2 separate regions of the Homo sapiens genome follow, and region 1 is linked to region 2. Evidence: fine-mapped expression QTL. A gene starts in region 2. The other region holds a variant in brackets. All regions are shown on one strand. Distances are between the middles of the regions. Region 1 has its middle 8.4 kb from the start of MIR615. Region 2 holds the start of ZNF740 (zinc finger protein 740).

Evidence for each region. PIP is the estimated chance that this variant, and not a neighbour inherited with it, causes the effect.
Region 1: its variant is fine-mapped to the expression of ZNF740 in monocytes (Schmiedel 2018, PIP 0.95).

What each region holds. Positions count from the first base shown.
Region 1 is chr12:54,036,590-54,048,011 of GRCh38, reverse strand. It overlaps a transcript of HOXC4 not described here. Among named protein-coding and RNA genes, the nearest start is that of MIR615, 8.4 kb to the right of the region's middle. RefSeq lists an enhancer at 672-1,571. The variant T/C (reference allele first, on the strand shown) is at 5,985.
Region 2 is chr12:53,175,021-53,186,442 of GRCh38, reverse strand. ZNF740 (zinc finger protein 740) reads right to left here and starts at 5,721. Exons shown (of 7, transcript NM_001004304.4): 1 at 5,606-5,721; 2 at 4,451-4,766; 3 at 1,403-1,552; 4 at 967-1,056; 5 at 366-489; 6 at 1-52. The coding sequence starts at 4,459. CSAD (cysteine sulfinic acid decarboxylase) reads left to right here and starts at 5,518. Exons shown (of 17, transcript NM_001244705.2): 1 at 5,518-5,711; 2 at 7,301-7,341. RefSeq lists silencers at 4,704-4,998, 5,352-5,651, 5,942-6,031 and enhancers at 5,694-6,252, 10,629-11,422.

The DNA of each region.
Region 1 (11,422 bases), 860 kb before region 2:
AGATTTCTTAGTGCCTGAAACTGGGGTGTCACCTCCCTCCATCCCCTCAAACCCAAAGGCAGCATCTTGATGCCATTTGGGTTCGCAAACTTGCCTTGGCAAAATCGTGGCACCAGTGGGATCTGGGGAGCGGCCTTCAACTGCAACTGCGCGTCTCAACCCCACAAAAACGGGAAAGTCGGAGAAGGGGCCATCGGAGGCTTCAGGGTCTGGCCTGGGAGAGGGCACCAGAGTCTGCTCTTCCTAGCCAAGCGGGAATCAATAGCGATGTGTTATAAACTTCCCCGAAGCCCCTCCGCGCGCTCTGGTCCTGGCGGGCGAGCCACGTCCCTAAGCCGCTCGCCAGCCTCGGCCTGCACCTTGGCCGCCTCCTCCGAACCCGGGACCCCCAGCCTTGGGCTTCGTCCCCTCCCTGTTTTAATTACGTGATTGATTTCCGCTTTGGCCGCCTCGGGACGCCTCTGCCTCCGACTGTTTAAATCTTTCGGCTCCTTTTGTGTATTTCCGAGTCCTCCCGGCGGGCTGTAATTTACAGGCGGCCCCTCGGCGGCCGGCGCGCACCTCGCGGCCTGGGTCCGGGGCGGGCTTCGGCCTCGCCCTACATTCCAACGAAATGGTCCTGCCGCGGTGCTCGGGAGACCGGCTCTGCAGCGGCCCCGCGGCGCGGGACTCTCAGGCTGTGGTCCTGCCCATTCGCTTTCTGAATTATTTTGTGCTCCATTATTCTCTGATAGGAAAACGTTCCCTGTGTGGGTTATCCCTTCAGGCCTGGCCTCAAAGCTGGGCTCTCCGCGGTCCTGTGCTTTTCTCCTCCCCCGAATGAGGTGTGTGTTGAAAGGTCTGGATTAAGCCCGGAGGAAGCGCGACGCCTGGCTCCAGGCTTGCGGGGAGCTAGAGCCCCTTCGCCTCAAACACCTGGGCCCTGCGCTGGCGGGCGAGAAGCACCAGAAGAGATGCGAATTCGGCCACAACTTTACGCCAGTCAGCGCGAGAGGGACCACAGGGCTGGCGGTCCCCACTGCGGCCCCTACCCCGCAGTAGGCGGTGGATCTGACTTTCGCTCCACAGCCCAGAGGCCTCCTCGCCCTGGCAGCCCCAGCGGGCACCTGGCAGCAGCCTGGGGTGGCTGCGCGCACCTCCGCCCGGGAACACGCTGTTCAGCCCCTCCACCCAAGGGATTGAAGGTGAGGCGAAGGAAGGGAAAGAGGGGAGAAATTGATGAGAAGGGTAGACTTAGGGTGGGGAGAGAAAGGGGAAGACAAGAAATGAAGAAAAGGAGCCCCTTCTCCCACTGTGGCTGACTTCTTTCCCTTTCTCTTTTTCCTCCCCAAACTGCTGGTTTTCCACTTATTCTCTCATTTATTTACAACAAATAAACATTGCTCTGCTTATTCTACCACGTTGTGTTCATTCTTTGATCTTTTCTAACGAGGCAGCAATGAGTTACCATTAACTGTGTATATATATATATATATTTCCCTCAAGGAGAGAAGGGGATTGGGAATGTCTTTCTGACTGGGAAGAAGTTCAGTGACACTTGAGTTGGCCACAACCTTCTCCCTGTCCCCTGACCTACGACACCCCAATACTTGTCCCCCAGGCCCCCTCCCCCACAGCAATGTTGCCGGGTAAATAAGAGTCCGCCTGCCTGGCTATTAGGATTCTGGAGACGTTGGCATCTGTAGCAATCATTAGTCAAAGCCGCGGAAGCCAAAGGAGCCGAGGAGTTGGACAGAAAAAATCTTGGAAATGATATACAGGAGACGCGGAGGCATCAATCCCAGCCGATAAGAGCGGGGCTGCTGGGCGCAAGGCGGCCGCTTAATTGGGCCCTGGGCACCGAGAACAACTGGGGAGGAGGAACCTATGGGTTGTGCAGTAACCCTGGCATCATTTGGGCACCCTATAAAAACAGTTGGGGACTTGATCCCTTTTTCCCCCACATTTCAAAGGCCCAGTGGGGGGTGTAGGGAGATATACAAGCCCCTGTCAGCCTCTTGCCCTGGGGATCCAACAGGAACTGGGCTGGAGGACTCTCCCCTTTCTTCTCTCCCCCTTCTTTTTAGTGGCTACCTTGAGAGGTAGGGAGCTTCGGCTTGGATCTCAGGTCACAGAGGCAGCCTGGAGGCAGTCTATGACCCCTAGAGTAGGTTTTCGAGGGACAGATAACTTAGTGGGACTAGATTTTGGAGATGGCCTTAGAAATAGAGACAGAATTACTTGCTTTAATAAGCCAAACATCCAAAATATATTTGTTCCCTACCCCCACTCACCTAATATCTTTTTATATCATAGACACAGAGATAGAGAGGGAGACAGAGAGATGCAGTAAGTTTAAGTCCTTCTAGAAGGGAGATCTATGCCCCTATACACAGATGCATGCATTATGAAACCATCTCTAAACATATGTTCAAACATGTAAGTTTTTCAGCAAAAATGCAAAGACTGTAAAGATCTCTAAATATGTAGCTTCAATATGTAGCTATTTTATGGGTTAGGATCCTTGCATAAATCTAGATAAAATTTTCAAAATAGACATTGAACACACACATAGTTCTTTCCAACAAAGAAAAAAATTTCCAAATATTCACTTAGGTGTTTCAAGAGAGCTGTACCAATACATCCTAGCATATACATCCAACCACTATAGAAAGATTGGTAAAGTGCACACAGGAATTTGACCGAGGACTGTTATGTTCACTATGGATCTATAAATCTGCATTTAAATGTGGAACAAAAAGGAATATAAAACATACATCCTGATATAGACATAGAACGATCTATAAATACGTTTTCACATATATAACTATGGGAGCGCTCAGCTCTCTGTGAAGATTATTTGCATGGAGTCCTAGGAATGAAGAGGAATCTCTAGTGCTTGTGGGTTTGGGGTATCCCAGCCCAGGCTTCTCTGAGAAAGAAATGAGGGTGGACTAGAGACTTCGCAAGTGCTAAGAGGGCCCGGAACTCATATAATCTATGACATATTTCCAGCATATAGGGGCATTTTGCTGGCAATGAATATAAGCCCTGATGCCTGGGCCTGAAAGCTTCCTGACCTGATCTGGCTTGAACTAAGGCTGAATTAGAGGGCTCTTAACTTTGTTTTCCTTCAGCTCTGTAGCCCCAGGCACAAGGGAGGGACTTGCCAGCCAGGGGGTGGGGGATCCTTAGGAGGGGAAGACTCATTATCATTAGGAAATGGAGTTATTTAGGTAAAATATATTGTTTGTTTGGTACATAGAGATGTGAGAAGGCTGGGGGCTTACACACACACACACACACAAACACACACACTCACACACCCCTGCACCCATCTTAATTACAAAAAAACCCAGTGACAGACTGCAGAGTTTCCTCCATTCATGCGGTACACGATGGGGTTCCCCTATGCCCCGCTGCCATCTCCTCTTATTCCTAGCTCCTATGAACTCTGTCTTATACATCTGAAGTTCTACCTTGTCAAAGGGGGTTTGGGGCTTGGGGAAAGAGTGACAGGGAGAGATCAGCCCCAGAACAGAAGAGTCCTGATATCTACAGCCAGGCTCTGAGGCTATTTACTGTCAATGTTAGTTCCTTTGTGACTGAGGGGTTGGGGGACCAGGGACTGCATGGGCAAAAGGAAATGAAACGTTGCATTATTTTTTAGGGGAAAACTTTGAGGGAAAAAAAAATCACCAATTAGCCTTTTAAAAAAGAAATTGGAGTCAGAGGATTTTGAAGACTCCAGATGCTCTGTTATATTTCTCCTTTAGTTTACTGGGGAAGGGAGGAAAGGAGGGGCCTCAGGTGGGCTTGGGGAAGTGCAATCCAATCTGCCAAGCCAGCTTTGGGGGAGAGTGATTTACAAAGCAAAACCTCAGATGCTACTTCCTGAGAAGTCACCAGATCAAAACACCCTACTCTAGGCGTTTATGACCCTGTCTTTACTCCCAACAGGAAAAGCACCCTCAATAAAACCTCAGCCTGTGCCCCCATCCTCCACCCAGGGGATGGGGAGAGACACAACATAAAATGAAAGACCTGACCCTTACTACTCCCTAAACACACACACACACACACACACACACACACACACACACACACACACACAGCCTGTGTTTTCCAGCCAGAAAGTTGACTTTTAAAAGAAGTATTTACTAGACAAGATTTATCTCTAATGTCTGAGCAAGGGAGCCCTGAGGAGTTTGGAGTTTGAGCTTGGAACAGAAGGAGAGGGGGATTAGATCAGATAAGATTCTGGCCTCCTTGGACCCTCCATGTCTCTTCAACTCCTGACAACTCAATCTGGGCCAACACAACACTGAAGATCACAGAAAGCCTGGCTGCCACCATCCCTGGAGTCAGCTCTAGCGTTTGAGTTTTCCAGAAAGGCAGAAGGAAGGAAACTCAACAGCTGCGCAGGGCTTGAGGGGTGGGGGTGGGGTGGGGAGGACAAATGGTTTCCAAGCTGGGCTGACGGGAAGAATGGAGTGGGAGGGAGGAGTGGGAAGTTGGTTCCATGCTGGTTACTGTGTCCAGCCCAGGCTTCTGACCTCTACCATACCATCCTTGGGCACATATATGTGTTTCTGTGTGTTCAGGTATTCTGGTGTTCAGGGCCAGGGGCTGGGGTAAATGAGAATCTTTAGAGGGCAGAACCAAGCCTGAACTGCCTCTCTGAGACCTGTGGTGCAGAACTGAAAGGATCCTAGGTGACCAGGCTACACATTTCACCCAGCCCATATGGGGTTGCAGATCACTGTAGAACTTTCTCTGTACATGTGTACAGATGCAGAGAAGCAGCCTTCTCCCTGCACTTGCTCCCCAGCATGCCTGGAGCAGTGGACCGGCTCAGGGCCCAGCCCAAGTGTTCAACCTCTTCTCATAGCTGCTAAAATGTGGTCCTTAGAGGCTGAACAAGGTCCTGCATAACCGAGTCCAATTTTCCCAAGTCCCACATTGCACACCCATACCGCTTCCTCTGAGGTATCTCTGTTCCCCTTTTGCCTCTCAGTGAACCTTAGGATTGGGAGAGGGAGATGATTACAAGGGTTGTGTAGGCCTCAAAAATAAAGAGATTTGTATCACCGAAGTTCCTCAACCCAGACCTTGTCTGGCAATTCCTTGGGCTCCTGGAGCCCCATCAAAGCTGCTAGCAGAGATAGTATCAGTACAGACACACCAATGTGGGTCACAAGGAGCCAATAAAAGTTGGGAGGGGTAGGAAAGGATGTGACTTTCTTGGCTCTCAAACAGCATCGTCTTCTCCTTAAATTGAATCATTCACCCCAAAACCCTAGTTTGGCACCCTGATTTCAGATTTTCTTTCTCCTTCACCTCAAAGGGCTTCAGGGGCCCTAGTCCCACTAAAGAAGAGGCTCAGGGTGGTGGTGCTTGTCTTCTCAGCAAAAAGGACCTAATTAAATCCTAGAACAATGATGTTTCAGCATTCCCCCTCTCAAAAACTCAGTCCAAAGCAGTTACAGAGAACGACAGTCAAAAAGAGAAAGTTTACCTTTTTGAGGCACTCACAAGGAGGGGTCGAGGCACTCACAAAATCTCTTTTCCCAGTGCCTGTGTGGATAGAACCAATCTCCCCCTGTCTTTGTTTCCTAACTCTTCATGAGATCTGGTACCCCAGTGTGAGAAGTCCACATTGAGGGTGAGAGTTGGTCTCCAACAATCTGCCACACCATTCACTGGGGAAGAATAAGTGTGTCCTTTAATTCTAACTCATAAAAGAGGCAAATGGGGCTGGCCACGGTGGCTCATGCCTGTAATCCCAGCACCTTGGGAGGCAAAGGCAGGCGGATCATCTGATGTCAGGAGTTTGAGACCAGCCTGACCAACACGGAGAAACCCTGTCTCTATTAAAAATACAAAATTAGCCAGGCGTGGTGGTGCATGCCTCTAATCCCAGCTACTCAGGAGGCTGAGGCAGGAGAATCGCTTGAACCCAGGAGGCAGAGTTTGCGGTGAGCTGAGATCCTGCCATTGCACTA[T/C]AGCCTGGGCAACAAGAGTGAAACTCCATCTCAAAAAAAAAAAAAAAAAAGAAAAGAAAAGAAAAGGCTGGGCGCGGTGGTTCACACCTGTAATCTCAGCACTTTGGGAGGATGAGGCGTGTGGATTACCTGAGGTCAGCCTGGGCAACATGATTAAATCTCATCTCTGCCAAAAATACAAAAATTAACTGGGTGTGGTGGTGGGCACCTGTAATCCCAGCCACTTGGGAGGTTGAGGCAGGAGAATCACTTGAACCCAGGAGACAGAGTTTGCGATGAGCCGAGATTGTGCCATTGCACTCCAGCCGGGGCGACAAGAGTGAAACTTAGTCTCAAAATAAGCAGATGGAGCAGTGTGGTTGAAGGTAACTTGAAAAGTGAGGGCTCAATGATTTCTGAGAAGAGCTGCTCTTTTTCTGGCTTCTCATCCTTATCCTTCCCACCTGGCCTGTGGCATTGTCCCCAAACCAGCTCCATCCAGAAGACAAACAATGAGGGGATTGTTGACAAAGCCCAGCTCAGTCCGGACTATCCTTCCCATTCTTGTACTCTTAATGCCCCCAGGGGGGTGCTTAGAGGTCCAGGTGCCACAGTCCATCAGAACTCCTGCCCCTTAGCTCAAAGAGGGCAAGAGATCAGGAAGAGAAGGGGAGGAGAACCCAACCAGAAAATTCACTCTGAAACAAAGCTCTAGAGAAGTGGCTGGGGGAGAATACCTGGGTCTGGACCCAGCAGTGGACTGGCTCAGGGCCCAGCCCAAGTGTTCAGGAAACACAAGCATTTCTGTCATAGCTGTGCACTCCCTGTGCCATCAGATGCTCTTACTCAGCAATAGTTTCTCGCCTATTGCTTGTTCTTGGCCTAATCCATGTAAACTCAAACACTGAAATCCACACCTTCAGTGGCTGTACCTTTTGATGGCTATTGGCCAGGACATAGGATCATCACCTAGTCTATTATTATTATTACTATTATTATATCCTGTTAAAAGAATGGAAGGGAAGGGGTTTAAACAAATCCATCAACTATTTAATGTGGAGAGTGAGGAAAGTCGGAATTCTCTGTGCTCATTCCTTTCCAGAACCCTTAACTAGCTCAAAGTTATTCGACAAACGAAAGGTACCAATCAGAACTTTCAAAAAATCTCCACTTTTGCTCCCTTCCCTAACCATGCCTGAGGCAGTCTGATAAAGCTAATGGCTATTGGAGCATTTCCAGAAAGAGAAATCAAAAGGGCTCTCCTCTCACCCCACCTGCCCTCATGAAAATCAGAAGAGAATGAATACTTGTAAGTGTATGGGGAATAATCACAGCCAGAATTTGAATTCAGGGCTGGAGTTCATATCTGTATTTGCTCTATAGTCTAATTTAGAGTCTACAACTACAACACCCAGAAAATTGGGTAGAATCACGCTGGCGAACGTGGGAATAATCCAGAGGATGCCCCCACAACTTCACATCCTTGTGCATTTGAGATTGACTCCCAGATACAACTTTGTAAGCAACTGAGGAGACAAGCCAAAGACTCCTCAGAGTTGGTTCAGGGACTGACAGAGGAGGCTAGAATATGCTGGGTATCACTCCAGCCTTCCAAATCTGAGATAGGATAAACCCAGGAGCTAAGGCTGTGGTGGGAAGGGAGGGAGGGAGGAAGGAACAGGGCCGGATGGGAAGAGCGAGACAGAGACCCAAGTAGTTTTTGCTGATTGGTTGGTGGGGACCATGTGACCCTGCTTAGTGCATTTCTGATTGGTTGCTTGACCTCTCCTTGGGTTAAAGTCCTAGGAACAAAATTAAAAGCTTCCCGGGTTGGCTGGAAAGCTTGGCACCTGATTGCCTGCCCACCCTCCGCTCCAGAGACACTCCAAATTAGGGTTTGGGGTAGTGGGTGGGAAAACCAAGAATTTCAGGCCTCCTTTGCGTTTGCCCTGTTTCCAGGTGGAACTAGAAACTTTTTAGAAAACAGTAAAAAACTGAGGCAAACTATTTGAGGGGAAGGAGAATCAATTATCACAGGAAGAGGGGTGGTATTTAAATGGAACTTTTGAGCCTAAAGAACAGAAAAGGGGGTGAAGAAGTCATCAAAGGGCTCAAGGGACGCTATGTAAATCTTTAAACACCCTCGAATGCCCGTCTACACAGAGAGGAAGGGAATGGGACTGAGATTTGGCCGAGAGTCAGGGCGGGTGTCAGGGTGGAGTCTTGCCTGGGTGTGGGACTTCGGCCCTGGCTAAATTCCCGGTTAAAGACCACTGCACTCGCTCCCTAGAGCCCTGGGGAGGCTGGAGGGTGGGGAAGAGTCAAGTTACAGACCAAGAGAAACTCCCATGTCTCCGCTGCTTGGATAGGAAAGTTTCCAGAAACTCTCAAAATCACAGACTAGAGGGAAGGAGAGAGCCAAGAAGGACGGGTAATGAGGAAGGGAGAAACTGATAATTAGTTTTTTCCAATGCGTTGCTGGAGAGAATTCCCTGGGATCCTAGGAAAATAAAGGTATCAGGGAGGAGGGTGGGGGAGGCTGAATCTTGGCCGAGACTGAGGCCCTGAGGGATGGCGTCAAGGGAATCCTCCATGTCGGGTTCCCGAGCTCCTCATGCAAGTGAGAGACCCCTAGACTGAAGAATGGGGCTCAGCTAAGACTCCCCATTTATTTGGGCCTCTGTGCCCCCTTCCTTCTCCCAGAGTCTGCCTGCTTCTCGCTTCTTCCCCAGTCCCTTGAGCAGCGGGGGCGAGGCTAACAGCATTCCCTCCTCATCCCCCAACAGCACCTCTCCACAAAGCAGATGCCCAGACACCGCTGCTCCCCAGGCATGCTCCCCTTCTGGAAGGTGCATATCTGGCTCACTCCCTCTGCTCCCCACCCCTTTCTCCCAGCCTGGAGGAGTTGCACCTATGGGTCCGCTGGCATTCAGCCCTGCTTCCAAAGCCCTGGCTATTCATGGCTGGCCAGTACAGGAGCCTGAATTCACATGTTGTCACTTTCCTGGCTTAGCTCCCGGTGACGCACAGGGAGGGATAGCAATTGCAGGTGTGGAAGACATGTGCCTCTCATGCCCAACGCTTCTGCTGCTCCTTCCTAGAAACCTGAAGGGCGCCCTAGCCTGAGGATTGACCCCAGGGTGCAGTGCTCATATTGGGCCCTGCTAGCTCCATCCCCGAGGGGCTACTCTGTCCTTAAGGTTGGGGGACTTACTTTCCCAGCCTAGCAAAGACATTGCCTCTGCTCCCTCACCCATTCAACACACAATTACACTCCACTCACAGCAGGAACCTCTAGGGCTCTTAGAGCCTAGTTTTATCTCAGGCAAGGGCTGGGAATGCCAGGAAGACCCAAGCAGCTAGAAGGAGAGGAGGAAGCATGAAACCACACTGGCTTCAGACGGACTAAGATGCCAAACTACGGAGGCTGAGACAGCTGCCCATCCAAGCCTGGTAGTGAGGGAGGGAGGGGGCACTCTGGGACCTCTGGGTTCAAACAGCCACCTTTGAGATACTTTTGCCAGTTCAGGCAGCAGTAGCCTGTGGGCGTAGAAGCCACAAAACCCTCCTTCCCTGCCTTTCTCCCCAGTTTCCCACCTTGGGCCACTGGCCAAGGGCTGAACTCACCCCTCCCTGGAACAGTGGGCCCCAGAGGCATTTTGAGCTTGTGTCTAGAGTTTACATACCCGTACAGACACCAAACACCCTTGTTGCTGCCGCTTGCTTTCTTCTCAACTGAAAGGGTCAGGAAGACCTGGCAAATCTCTAAACAACCAAGGCCTCTCTACCCCAGTTGACTTGCAGTCAGAGAGAATAAGGAGTGGGAAGGGGAGGGCTGCTCAGGGTAGACAAGCTCCCCCATCTTCCTACTTCCCAGCAGCTTTTTCTGCTGCTTCTTCTCTTCTCCCACCCCAGCCTGGGAAGGCCTTTTCCCCCTCCCCCTAATAAGTGGGAGCTGCCTTCTATCAAGTGAGGGGGGTGGTTAGGTAAATGGGAGAAAGGGTCTGAGAGAGAGAAAGAGAGAATTAACTCACAGCGTTCGCCTGGGATTCATTTGCGAAGATGTAACCTCTCTCACCATCGTCCCCAGCGCCGTAATCCCCTCTAACTGCCAGGCCCTCTGTCCTAGCATTAAACCTCACCAGCAGCTGCGTGGCTGGACAGTTAAGATTATATATGATGTAAATATATTGTGGGTTTGTCAGCTCTCCCTACACCATAAAACTTGGTTTAATGATATCACGTGGTCCCCCAAGAGCCACTCACGGGCTTGCCTTCAGGCTATTCACATAAATAACCTCCAAAAGTTTCAAACTCCTAAATTCACATAGAAGCATGCCTATTTCTCTAATGCTCAGTTACACTAAAAAGCCCTGGTGCTGTTCCTTTGCCCCACCCCCACATCCCCCTTGCAGGGTGGAGAGGGGGGAGAGGGTGGATCCTTATTTATTTATTTACTTACTTATTTCCATAAGGACCTGTCGCCTTCGAGGTCGTGTTGATCTTTTTGTCCTCTTATTTTTTCCTCCTCTTTCCTCTAATTGCTCAGAGTGGGCCGTGTCCCCCCTCTTCCCACTCCCCCGGGAAGGTAAGTCATGCTTCTTCCCCTTCTTTCTTGCTGCCAGAGGGGGTGGGTTCCAGGGCAAAGTGGAGAGGCAGGCTCCATAGTCTCTGCTTGCAACCCAGAAGACCCCTCCATAAACTCCCCCAGAGCAATGCCAGACCCTGTTACCTGGAAATATGTTCTAGGAGGCTGGCTGGTGGGGAAACTACCCCAGGCCCCAAAGCAGAAGCCCCTGTTCAGGGAGAAATCAGGGATCTGGGCCTTATGCACCCTCAGCGTAGGGAAGTAGGTACGAGGCCTCTGGCTTGGTTGCCGCCGCTGACTCCCGACGATGCTGCAGAAGCCAAGGCTGGTGCCTGGGCAGACCTGCAGATTGTGACAGGAAGGAGGAGGGCAGGCAGGCACTCTGTGTCTACCCAAGCCAAAATGAGTCAGACCTTCAGCTCCTCCAGGGAAGGAGAGGCCCAAACCCTGCCGGGAGGAGGCAGTCAGTGCACGGTGGGGCTGGTGTGCCCTGCCTGGCAGCTCTAACCAACATTGCCCCTATCTATGACAAAGCCCTTGGTTTTCCCCTGGGGTGGTGCGCCTGTCCCCTGGGGAGGAAGCACAGGGCCTGGGCAGCCTGGGAGGCTGGAACAGGTGGGTGCGGGTGCCACAGCCTCTTTCTTAGTTAACTGTTACCCACCGGAGACGCCAGTGCTTCTCCACGCTTCACTGCTCACTCAATAGTTTTACTCAGCATGGAGAAAAAATTAAAATAACTCCCTGAAGAAAATTACACATTTTATTTCAGAGAGAGAGAGAGAGAGCACTGGTCTGGGTTAACTGCTGTGTGCAAGTTGAGGAGAGACAACAGGCGCCCTAACCTGGCCTGAGTGCAGTGCGAAGGGGAAGG
Region 2 (11,422 bases):
TACTTCTGGATGAAACGCATATCACATATATCGCATTCAAATGGCTTCTCACCTGGCCCAGGTGGACAGAGAAGTGAATGTGGGGAGGTATGTACAGTAGGGACCTCATTCCAGTTTTCTCAGAAACTTTAACTCTTAGTAATGTGTAGACACCTAAGTGATCATAAATGGGGAGAGGTCCCCAAAGGTGCTGGTCTCAGTGACACCAGATACAAAGCCATGCAATCTCTCTGCTTCATTGACTTATCTTCTTCCTTCATTTCTAATACTTACCCATTAAAATAAACCCAACTAGAGCCACAAACAGACATGGAATACAAGCGATAGACTATTCTCCCCCTTTTGAATATAAACAAGAGACTTACCAGTGTGAATAAGGATGTGCCTCTTTAGGTGGTAACTGCTCCGAAAGGCTCCAAAGCAGTGTTCACAAACAAAATTTTTGGGAATCTTTACTTGAAAAGAACCATTTTGTTCCACTACCACCACCTGGGGGCAATAATCAGGCATGTCATGAGGCCACCACTGCCCTCTTCCTGGAGACACTGTTCTACTCTGGGTCCACTTCCAGCTGTTGGAGAAAGGAACCTCTCTGATGCTGTCTAAAGGTGCTGCCATCTCCTGTACTCCATGGAGGTAAGAGACCCTTTGGGGAAGGAGGTGGAGTGGGTAAGCTGTCTATCCTGTCAAACCCAGCAGTCTGAGTATGACTTGAGCTGGAGCCTGCCTGCTCCCATGCCTCGGGATCTGGGATCTCATGCTCCCCAACCTGTACCATTACTGTTCCAGCAAGGCAGGAGATCAACTACCAAGGTAGTCTCTGGATGAAATCTGGGGGACTCACTCACTGGCTATCAGAGATCAAAGCATCTAGGGAAAGCTCCAGGTTACATGGTAGAGGGAAGAAGGAGGAATATTACCCCATTACCAAACTGTATGAGTTTGGGGGATCACCCCATTACCTGCCTTTTTAACAGTCTTTTTTGAATGAGAGGCCTCAGACAAGCTGTCATCATCTTTGCGGCTCCGGGACTTATCACTGTCTTTTCGGTGACCCTTTGAAGACAAATCAAATCTAAACTCATAGCCCATCTCGGAACATGAGATGAGACCCAATGCAGCTCTCAGACAAAATTCATAAATGAGAGTAAACCACCTGCCCCGAAAGCTTAGAGGAAGTATACAACTATTTCCTCTCCAAGCACCTGGTCTTAAAAGAGTTGAAGGCACACAAAAGACCTTCCTTAGCTTTCTGAAATACCAATGTTCATCCATTCCCCAGTTGGATCCCCTTGCCCCACTTCCCTATGAGGAAGCATCAAGGAATCAGAGCTTGGTATCTCCTGGCAGAGAGCTTGGGCCACCCGATCCCCAGGTGCCACAATGGACTCAAGCGCTGTACCTGACTCGAGCACCTCAGCACATCAGGGCTACCTGCCCGCTCGCCATTCTCGGCCTGCTTGCTGGCAATCTGGCTCAGCATCATCTTCTTGCTGGCTGCAGTGGGAACCAAACTCACACCTGCTAGGCCTTCACAAGCCAGGAGACTTGCCTAAGTTGAAAGGAGATGAGGTGTCAGGTCACCTGGCAGGGCAGGGCAAAAACAGACTGCCATCCTCTATAGAACTACCTTTTACACCCTGCTACAAACTGCTTCTCTCCAGGGAATGTCCCTCCTCACTGCCAAAGCCTTGCTTCCTTCAAGAGTCCTCCCTAACTCATCTCACCAGGAACGACTTATCTTGTCATCCTTCAGCATTTAAATATAGATCAAGTAAATAATCAAGTATTACTGACACCTTTGTCATCAGCACTAGGCAGTGTGTGGCTACATATTTCTTTGAAGGTATTTCTAGGCCTTAACTGTGAGTGGGTATGAGGTTCCATCTTGCTAACCCACTGACACAGGAGATTCCTTCAGGACCTTCCTCCTTCCTCCCTCAACAGCCCTCAGCTGGGCCGAGTGCAGTGGCTCACACCTATAATCCCAGCACTTTGGGAGAATGAGGCGGGCGGATCACGAAGTCAGGAGTTCGAGACAAGCCTGGACAATAGGTGAAACCTTGTCTATACTAAAAATACAAGAATTAGCCAGGTGTGGTGGCACACACCTGCGGTCCCAGCTACTCGGGAGGCTGAGGCAGAAGAATTGCTTGAACCCGGGAGGCGGAGGCTGCAGTGAGCCGAAATCGCGCCACTGCACTCCAGCCTGGGCAACAGAGCGAGAATCCCTCCGTCACTCACACACACACACACACACACACACCCCTTAGCTTCAGAGCGCGCGCGCGCACACACACACACACACACACACACACACACACACACCCCTTAGCTTCAGAGCCCACTTTTGATTGGCAGATCTTGCTGGTGCCAACTGTATTTTCTATCGGTTTGTTTCATTTTTTGCTTGTTGGTTGAGACAGGGTGTCACTCTGTCGCCCAGGCTGGAGTGCAGTGGCACGATCTCGGCTCACTGCACTCTTGACCTCCCTGGCTTAAGCGATCCTTCTACCTCTACCTCCTGAGTAACTGGGACTTCAGGAGAATGCCACCACACCCGGCTATTTTTTTTTGTATTTATAGAGACGGGGTTTCACCATGTTGCCTAGGCTGGTGTGGAACTCCTGAGCTTAAACAATCCTCCAGCCTCAGTCTCCTAAGGTCCTGGGACTACAGGCTATTTCTCCCTTTAGATTTTAAACTCCCTAAGTATTTACCAATTGCAACTGATATGATTTTTGGAGTTCAGCATTTCTCTTGACCTCTTAGGCCATTTATATGTGTGCTTGTATGATCACATTTTTTTTCACATTCCTTGCTCCATATATAATTTAAACAATTACTTAAGTAAGGTATGTTTAAGTAAATTTCCAGAAAACTGCTACATTCTTCAAACTGACTTCGGTTAGCCGGCATTAAAGAAAATACTTTTCTTACTGAAAAAAAAAATTTTAAGAAATCGTTGGTCAGCAAACTCACAAATTTATGAAGAAATTCCTTTTAGATGATCAGTACGTTCTGGGACCCCTCCCTCCACCTTCTGGGACTTTGGAGTGAAAGATCCAGAGTTAAAATCTTAGCTCAGCTGTTTGCACTCTATAATCTTGGGCAAGTTATTCCACCTTTGCAAGCCTTAGTTTCCTTACATGAAAAATGCCTGTCATAATGCTTATCCTTACAGGGTTGATGAAAAGTAAACTAAGACGTAAAACGCTTAACAGTGTCTAGCACAAAGTTCAGTCCTTAGTGGAAGGCAGCATTCTCAGAAGACTGAATACAATGCTGAGAAGTGGGTTGCAAAACACAAAGGAAGAAGAAACTGACAGGCTCCTATTCTATATGGAAAGGAGGAAGCTGTGCATTCAGAAGCAGCTGGAGGAAAGCCAATTATACTACAATCAGACTGCCATCCTGGTGAGACTGGTAGGGAGGTTCCCTAGAAGCAAGCTGGGAGAAGCTCTGGAGATGTGTGCACATAGCTATTCTACTCAGATGACTACAACAGCCTATCTGCTCATTCTGTCTCTCCAGTCCATCCTCTACCTCCACAATAATGACCTTCTACATAACACTGATCTGATGCTACTCTGCTGCTTAACTTAGCGAGGCATAAAAGGCCTTTGGGTTACACTCTGCTTACTGCAGGGAACAACTTCCTCACCTATCACTGTCAATACTACCTCCATAACTATCCCCATTTAAATCCCTTACTCCGTAACTATCAAACAACCTGCAGTACTCGGAACCTCATCACATTTTCCCATGACTCTAAGCTCCTGCCCATGCTGTTCCTTTTGTCCAAACACCCTTCTCGCTTGTTTAGCAAAATCCTATGCATCTTTCAACCTCCATCTTCTTTTTCTATCCAAGCAGAAGTACTGTTCTCTCCTATGTACATACCCCTATTATTGCACATTCCTCAATCAACAGATTCAGAGTCTCTACTACTAGCCAGCCACTATACAAGGCATTGTGAATATAAAAATAAATGGCTTTCCATCCCTCTCCCGACCCCAACTAGCCTGGAAGCTCACTGGGGACAAGGACAATCGTATTCATCTTTGTATTCCCAGCACAATGCCTTGCATGCAACAGGAACTCAATAAATTCCTGTTGGAAAAAAACAAAAGAAGCATTCACCGTACTATTCACTCCCTTACACCCCTCAGCACTTAATGTACCAAATGTAAACTGAGTACACGTTGCTTTGCAAATGTCCCATCAGTGCCTGTGATGCAGTATAGCCTACCTCCTTCATTTGACTGGAAGCTCCCTGAAGGCAGGGGCTGTGGCCTGTCTCCTTTCCTTCCTCTAGATCTCCCCCTGGTGCTTAATACAGAGCTTGGATCACTGGGGTTGGTCAATATGTTGACTAAGGCAGCATTCAAGAGTGAAACTGCAAACAGGCTTCCCAGTTATCTTGGAGGAGGACTCTAGAGCTTTTTACCTGAGCCATGCTGATTTCTCACTTAAGGCAACCCAAAAGTTCAGGAGTTCCTAGGTCCACCTTTCCTTGAGACACTGTCGTTTTGAAGAACTGTCACCAAATCACGGTAGCGACTCCTTCGTGTCCCATCAGTCCTGTTGCCATATTGAACTTTGTCTTCAAATAGAACTTAGTGTCCTCCGAAGAAAAGATAGGTGTTCCAAGAATCCCTGGACTCTGCCTGGCTCCTGCCTATTGTCTGAAGAAAAAGAGAGTCTACCAGTCTTGGTTTTCCAGTTGAATTCTCTTGATGAAGCTCACGATCTGTTTCAGAAACCTGAAACCAGAAAGGAAGAGGGGGGCTGCTAAATGCAACATCTTCAGGCCATTACAACGTGCGATATGAATTTTTTTTTTGCTGGGCGCTCTCTGTGAAGCTCAGAACGAGGACATGAGTCAAGAAGAGTTTTCTTTCTAGGTCAATAGGAGGAACTGGTCTCCTGGGCAAGGAGTGGAAGCCAACAGGAGCAAAAGTAATTGGGGCCTCCTATGGAGGAACTCTGCCAAAAGGAAAGTTGCTTGGATTTGCCATCTCAGGAATGGAAGAAGGGGGCGGAGACCCTTTGGGGCTTTTGTGCCCAGTGGGCCGGCCCGAAAAGCTCGCACTTTACAGAGGCGGCAAGACTAGGGTGGAGGAAAGCTCAAGGGCCATCGCTGGGTGCTTCGGTGGCGGGCAGAAACGGGACTGGCAGTGCCCACACGTGTGCGTTCTCCCCGTCCGCCCGAAGGTAGGGAAACTTGCTGCGGAGGTGGAGGACAGGCAGGCGAAGCCCGGCGCGGCGTGTCGCCCGCCTCGCTCCGGCCAGCCAGCCTCTGCACCCGCTGCACCAACCGGGAGCAGAGCCGGAGAGTGCCGAGAAGCGCGCGAGATGCGTGCTCGCGCCCGCGTCCCCTCCGAGAGCCCTCTCCCGGGCCGGGGACGCGGCGGGACGCGCGGGCAGGGGGCGGTGTGCGCGCACGGCCTTTCCCCTCCCTCCCCCGGAGATCCCCCTCCCTTCGCCACGCGCCCCTCCTCCCCTCCCCTCCCCCTTCCCGCGCGGCACCCCACGGCTTGCGAGCTACTGAAGCGCTGCCGTCTGTACGGACGACGCTGCGGTCTTTGGGGCTTGCTCCTACCTGCCAGGCGCGGCCTCCCGCTGGCTCCCTGGCCGCGCGGCGCCTCCTCCAGGCCCCAGCACACCCTGCCAACCCCACCGCCGCGGCTGCCCCCACCGGGACCGAGGCAAGTTTACAAACACCAACCCCGGCCCGTTTCCCCGGAAGCACTTCCCCCTCCCCCTCGTCCTCTCCGCCGAGCGGCTGCATCCACTTCCGGGCTCGGCAGCTAGACTAGCGGGGGCAGCCTCAGAGCGGGTGAGCTTGGGGACGCACGGAGAGGTGCAGCTGGGTGAGTGGGCGGCGCCGTGCGCCGAGGGCATGGAGGAGGGAGCGCTGAGGCCGGCGCGTGCGCCGTGGCCGGGGCGCGCCCCGGCCGCCATCGAGACTGAGGGCAGGACCCTCGGCCCTTCGATGATTGTACGCTGGGTGCTCGATGGGAGGAGGGTTTGCTGGGTGAGCTGGTTCAGACTCCTTGAAAAATCATCGTCACTCTTTCTTCCTCGCGGACGTCCTGCCCATCGCTCTGAGCCGGCGCCCCAAGTAGAGCCAGAGTAGTTCGTACCCAGCCTTTTCACGTAACTCGGCCGAGGTGGTTCTTCTCCGAATTTTTTCCGTCAGGCCCAGATTAGCAGATTTTGGGGTCAGCTGGGAGAGGCGTTAACTTTTCTTCGCACACTCTTGCTTTGTGCGCTCAACCACAGTCTGAATTCTCGCAGAGGCGTTCCTTGAGTAGCCCTTGGCCACACTGCTCACCTCCCTGCAGAAGTCAAAGCCCCAGCCCTCCTCTGCGAATCCCGAGGCCAGCCTGGTTGGTTACCTTCTCCCCTTCGCCCTTTACTCCAGGCCGTCCAGCATCAAACACTAGCCTCCACACGTGGAAAAGACCCTGACTCCCACAGTAGACTAGTCTTATGGGAGTCCTGGCTCTTGGGCCAGGCTGCATTAGGAAAATGGAAACCAGACTGTCTTCAAATTCTTCTGCCTAGCCTTAGCCATTAGAGAGAGGTCCTGCTAAAGATGGACTGCAAATGCGCTTGATGGAAGGAGATGTCAATTCCACTGAAGTCCTCATTTCTGCTGTAGGTGATATTATGTCGTGACTTTAGGAGAAGTAATGGTGATACCAAAAGAAAAAAAAAACTGTATGATGAAAAAAAGACAAGGATTCTCAACTTTTTTTTTTTTGTAGACAGATTTCATTTCCCTGAGCCACTCCATGATTTGGGCCATTGAAAGTACGTTTTTTGTGTTTTAGGATCATTCTAAAATAGAGACAAAATGGAGAAAGAGAGAGATAAAGAAACATCACCAGGAATAAGTCTTTTAAATCTTTTTTGAAAATTAGCTCCTACTTATTTTACAAATCGACACAACGCAAAAGTATAAAAGACACAAAATGGTTATTCTCCCCCTCTACTTATCCCATGCTCCTGAAGGGAATCATTCTTACCAGTTTGGTATATATGCTTTTAGGCTTTTTTCTGTGTTCATACAAAAATCTTTTCAACCAGTATTTATTGAGCACCTGTAATGCGCCATACAGTGTATTTTAGACATCTGAGTCAGCTAACATTTAAAAAACTGTTGCACAGTATTCCAGTTTATGTGTGTGCCTTGTCCCATCTTGATGAACATTTAGGTTTCAGATTTTTTTGCTTTATAAACAATACAATAATGAACATCCTTAAATAGTTATCTTTTTGCTCCGGGCAGGGTGGCTCACACCTGTAATCCCAGCACGTTGGGAAGCCGAGGTGGGCGGATCATCTGAGGTCGGGAGTTCCAGACCAGCCTGACCAACATGGAGAAACCGCGTCTCTTCTAAAAATACAAAATTAGCCGGGCGTGGTGGCACATGCCTGTAATCCCAGCTACTCGAGAGGCTGAGTCAGGAGAATCACTTGAACCCGGGAGGCGGGAGTTGTGGTGAGGCGAGAGTCGTGCCTTTCCTGGGCAATAAGAGTGAAACTCTGTCTCAAAAAAGAAAAAAAAGTTACCTTTTGCATTTATAAGGATTTATAGATAGGATATGTGCTTTTATTTAAATTTATTTTTATTTTTATTTTTTTTTGAGATGGAGTCTCACTCTGTCACCCAGGCTAGAGTGCAATGGCACAATCTTGGCTCACTGCAACCTCCACCTCCCAGGTTCAAGCAATTCTCCTGGCTTAGCCTCCTGAGTAGCTGGCGCCTGCTGCCAGCCCGGCTAATTTTTTTGTATTTTTTAGTAGAGATGGAGTTTCACCATGTTGGTCAGGCTGGTCTTGAACTCCTGACCTCAGGTCATCTACCCACCTTGGCCTCCCAAAGTGCTGGGATTCCAGGTGTGAGCCACCACACCCGGCCCTATTTTCATTCTGTTTAAAGATAGGGTCTTGGTCTGTCGCCCAGGCTGGAGTGCAATGGTGCAGTCAGGGCACACTGCAGCCTCAACCTCCTGGGCTCAAGGAATCCTCCCATCTTAGCCTCCCAAGTAGTTGGGACTACAGATGTGGGCAACTGTGCCTGGATAATTTTGTAGTTTTTTTTTTGTTTTTTTGTTTTTTGTAGAGACAGGGTTTTGCCATGTTGCCCAGGCTGGTCTCGAATTCCTAGGCTCAAGCTATCCATTGGCCTCGGCCTCCTAGAGTGCTAGGATTACAGGATTGAGCCACCATGCCTGGCCGGATATGTAAATTTTAATAGATTCTGTGAAAATGAATTGTAAAAGTTTGTAACAACTCCCATGTTTACTCAGAACCATGTGTGAATGTTCCCTATTCCTACAACTTTGGCAATGTTTAGTGTATGCTATGAATTTTTTATACAGTTACTAGTTTAATGGGTGAAAAATAGTATTTGTTTTAATTTTCATGTCATTAATAGTGAAGTTAATATTCTCTTATTGCCTTTTTTTTTTTTAAGAGATGGGTCTCTGGACAGGCACGGTGGCTCACGCCTGTAATCCCAGCACTCTGGGAGACCGAGGTGGGCGGATCACCTGAGGCCAGGAGTTTGAGACCAGCTGGGCCAACATGGAGAAACCCCATCTCTACTAAAAATACAAAAAAATTAGCTGGGCTTGGTGGCACGTGCCTGTAATCCCAGTTACCAGGTGGCTGAGGCAGGAGAATCACTTGAACCCGGGAGGCGGGGGTTGCAGTGAGCCCATATTGTGCCATTGCACTCCAGCCTGGGCAACAAGAGCGAAACTCTGTCTCAAAAAATAAATAAATAAATAAATAAATAAATAGATGGGTCTCCACGCTTTGTTGCCTTAGGCTGGTTTCCAACTCGTGAGCTCAAGTGATCCTCCCACTTCAGCCTTCCAAATAGGTGGGACTATTTTATTGCTCTTTGACCATTTTAATTGTTTTTGTAAACTGTCTGTTCATATCCTTTGCCCATTAAAAAAAGGTAGATCATTTGTATATTTCTTATTGATGGTAGAAATCCTGTCTGTGTTATGGATAATAACTATTCTTTGTCGTCTGCATTTAAAATATTTTCTCTTTTTCACTTATCTTTCAGCTTTTGAGACAAAAGTCATGCTTTATGGGAAAATATTTGAAACATTTCTGTCTTTGCTAGGAACAAGCCAGGGATGTTTACTATTAAAACTAAGATTTTAGGAGAGCTCCTGGCCACCCTAAAGCCTCCTTGATTTCATATATATTCATCTTACAAAGAGAAACGATTGACAATGTATCAAAACTATGGAGTTCAGCAACATGACCAGATGTCAGATTAACAAACAAAAATTATATAAATAAAATATAAGAATATAACCAACACTAAAATACCATAGAATAAATAATCTGATTCACAATAAAAACATTATATTTTGGCCAGGCGAGGTGGCTCACACCTGTAATCCCAGTGCTTTGGGAGGCTGAGGTGGGAGGATTGCTTGAAGCCAAGAGTTTAAGACCAGCCTGGGCAACATAGTGAGACCCTGTTTACAAAAAATTAAAAAATTAACCCGGCATGCTGGCATGTGCCTGTAGTCCTAGCTACTCAGGAGGCTGAGGTGGGAGAATTGTTTGAGCCCAAGAGTTCGAAGCTGCAGTAAGACATGATTGTGCTACTGCACTTCAGCCTGGGTGATACAGCAAAACTTATTCTCTAAAATAATAAATAAATATTTTTTTTTTTTTTGAGATGGAGTCTCGCTCTGTCACCCAGGCTGGAGTGCAGTGGCATGATCTCGGCTCACTGCAAGCTCCGCCTCCCGGGTTCTCGCCGTTCTCCTGCCTCAGCCTCCTGAGTAGCTGGGACTGCAGGTGCCCACCACCATGCCGGGCTAATTTTTTGTATTTTTAGTAGAGATGGGGTTTCACCATATTAGCCAGGATGGTCTCGATCTCCTGACCTCGTGATCCACCCGCCCTGGCCTCCCAAAGTGCTGGGATTACAGGCGTGAGCCACTGCTCCCAGCCCCTTCTGGTATTCTTGTTTTTTTTTTTGAGATGGAATTTTGCTCTTGCTGCCCAGGCTGGAATGCAATGGTGCGATCTTGGCTCACTGCAACCTCTGCCTCCCGGGTTCAAGCGATTCTTCTGCCTCAGCCTCCCAAGTAGCTGGGATTACAGGCATGCACCACCACACCCGGCTAATTTTTGTATTTTTAGTAGAGACGGGGTTTCACCATGTTGGTCAGGCTGGTCTCGAACTCCTGACCTCAGGTGACCTCAGGTGATCCACCTGCCTCGGCCTCCCAAGTGCTGGGATTACAGGCTTGAGCCACTGTGCCCGCCCCTCACCCCCCCTTCTTGTATTCTTATGGTTGTATATTTTCAGTTTCTGTCTTTATCTTAGCTGCAGTTAATTTTTGTCAATGATGAGAAATAGTGAGAAATGCCACACGGACCTGTGATGCAGTGGAAGAGGTAGCCTAAAGTCAGAAAGTCAGTGATCTAGGCTTGTTCCCATGTCACCTTTGTAATTTTGGACAATTAGTTCACCTTCTTTCAGCTAAGAATCCTCATCTTGAAAACAAGAATGAATAAATACCTATTTAGGCTAATTTCTAATACTATTGTGAAGGTCAAATAAGATAATAAATGAGAAGGAAAAACACCCTTTGCAAATCTATTATCATTACTACAGATTCTTGGTTGATGCAAATCAAATGTAAGTAGAATGCAGCATTTTTTCCAGTACCTGCAAATCATTGATTGATTTAACAAATGTTTATGTAATGCCTCTGTGCAAGTCCCTGGGGGAGGGGAGAGGACAATCAAGAAGATGGAAACTAACATTTGAGGGGTCCCTGTTTTCTATTAGTTTACTTAATGAAGGAAAAGACTTAGTTCTCTCCACCCAGGAGAGTACAGTCTAGAAGCAGAGAAAAGATTGTATACATAGGAGAGTTTGTGCCTTTATTAATGTGGGTGTGGAGCCACTAGGGTTTGTTGATTGGGAGATAGCACAGAGTACTTTAGCTTTCTAACCATAAACCTGGCTGAGAGCGCTTCAGGAGACAATTGCCTAGATCCCTTTGTCCCCAGGCAGGCCTCCTCCTGTGTGACCTTCCCTAACTCCCTCTTCCCTCAGGCCCACTCCATCACTTATTCAAATAGCATTGCAATGACTCCTGCTGAGTCTTTTCCTGCACCAGCTCTCTATTGCCTTAAGGAGAGCCTTAGTGTTTTGTCCTTGAAGCCTGTCCTGGGCCAGTTGAACTTTCCTGCCTTTCCATGGTGACCTCTCAACTCCCTCTTGTGGCAATTTCCCTTTATTTTACATGCAGGTCTCTCTTGCCAGCCTGTTAGCTGGAGCCCACAGGGCAGATGCAGCACCTAGGGTAATGCCAGCCAGGCGCTCAGAAGTAGACAACACTCAGTCAATGTTTGC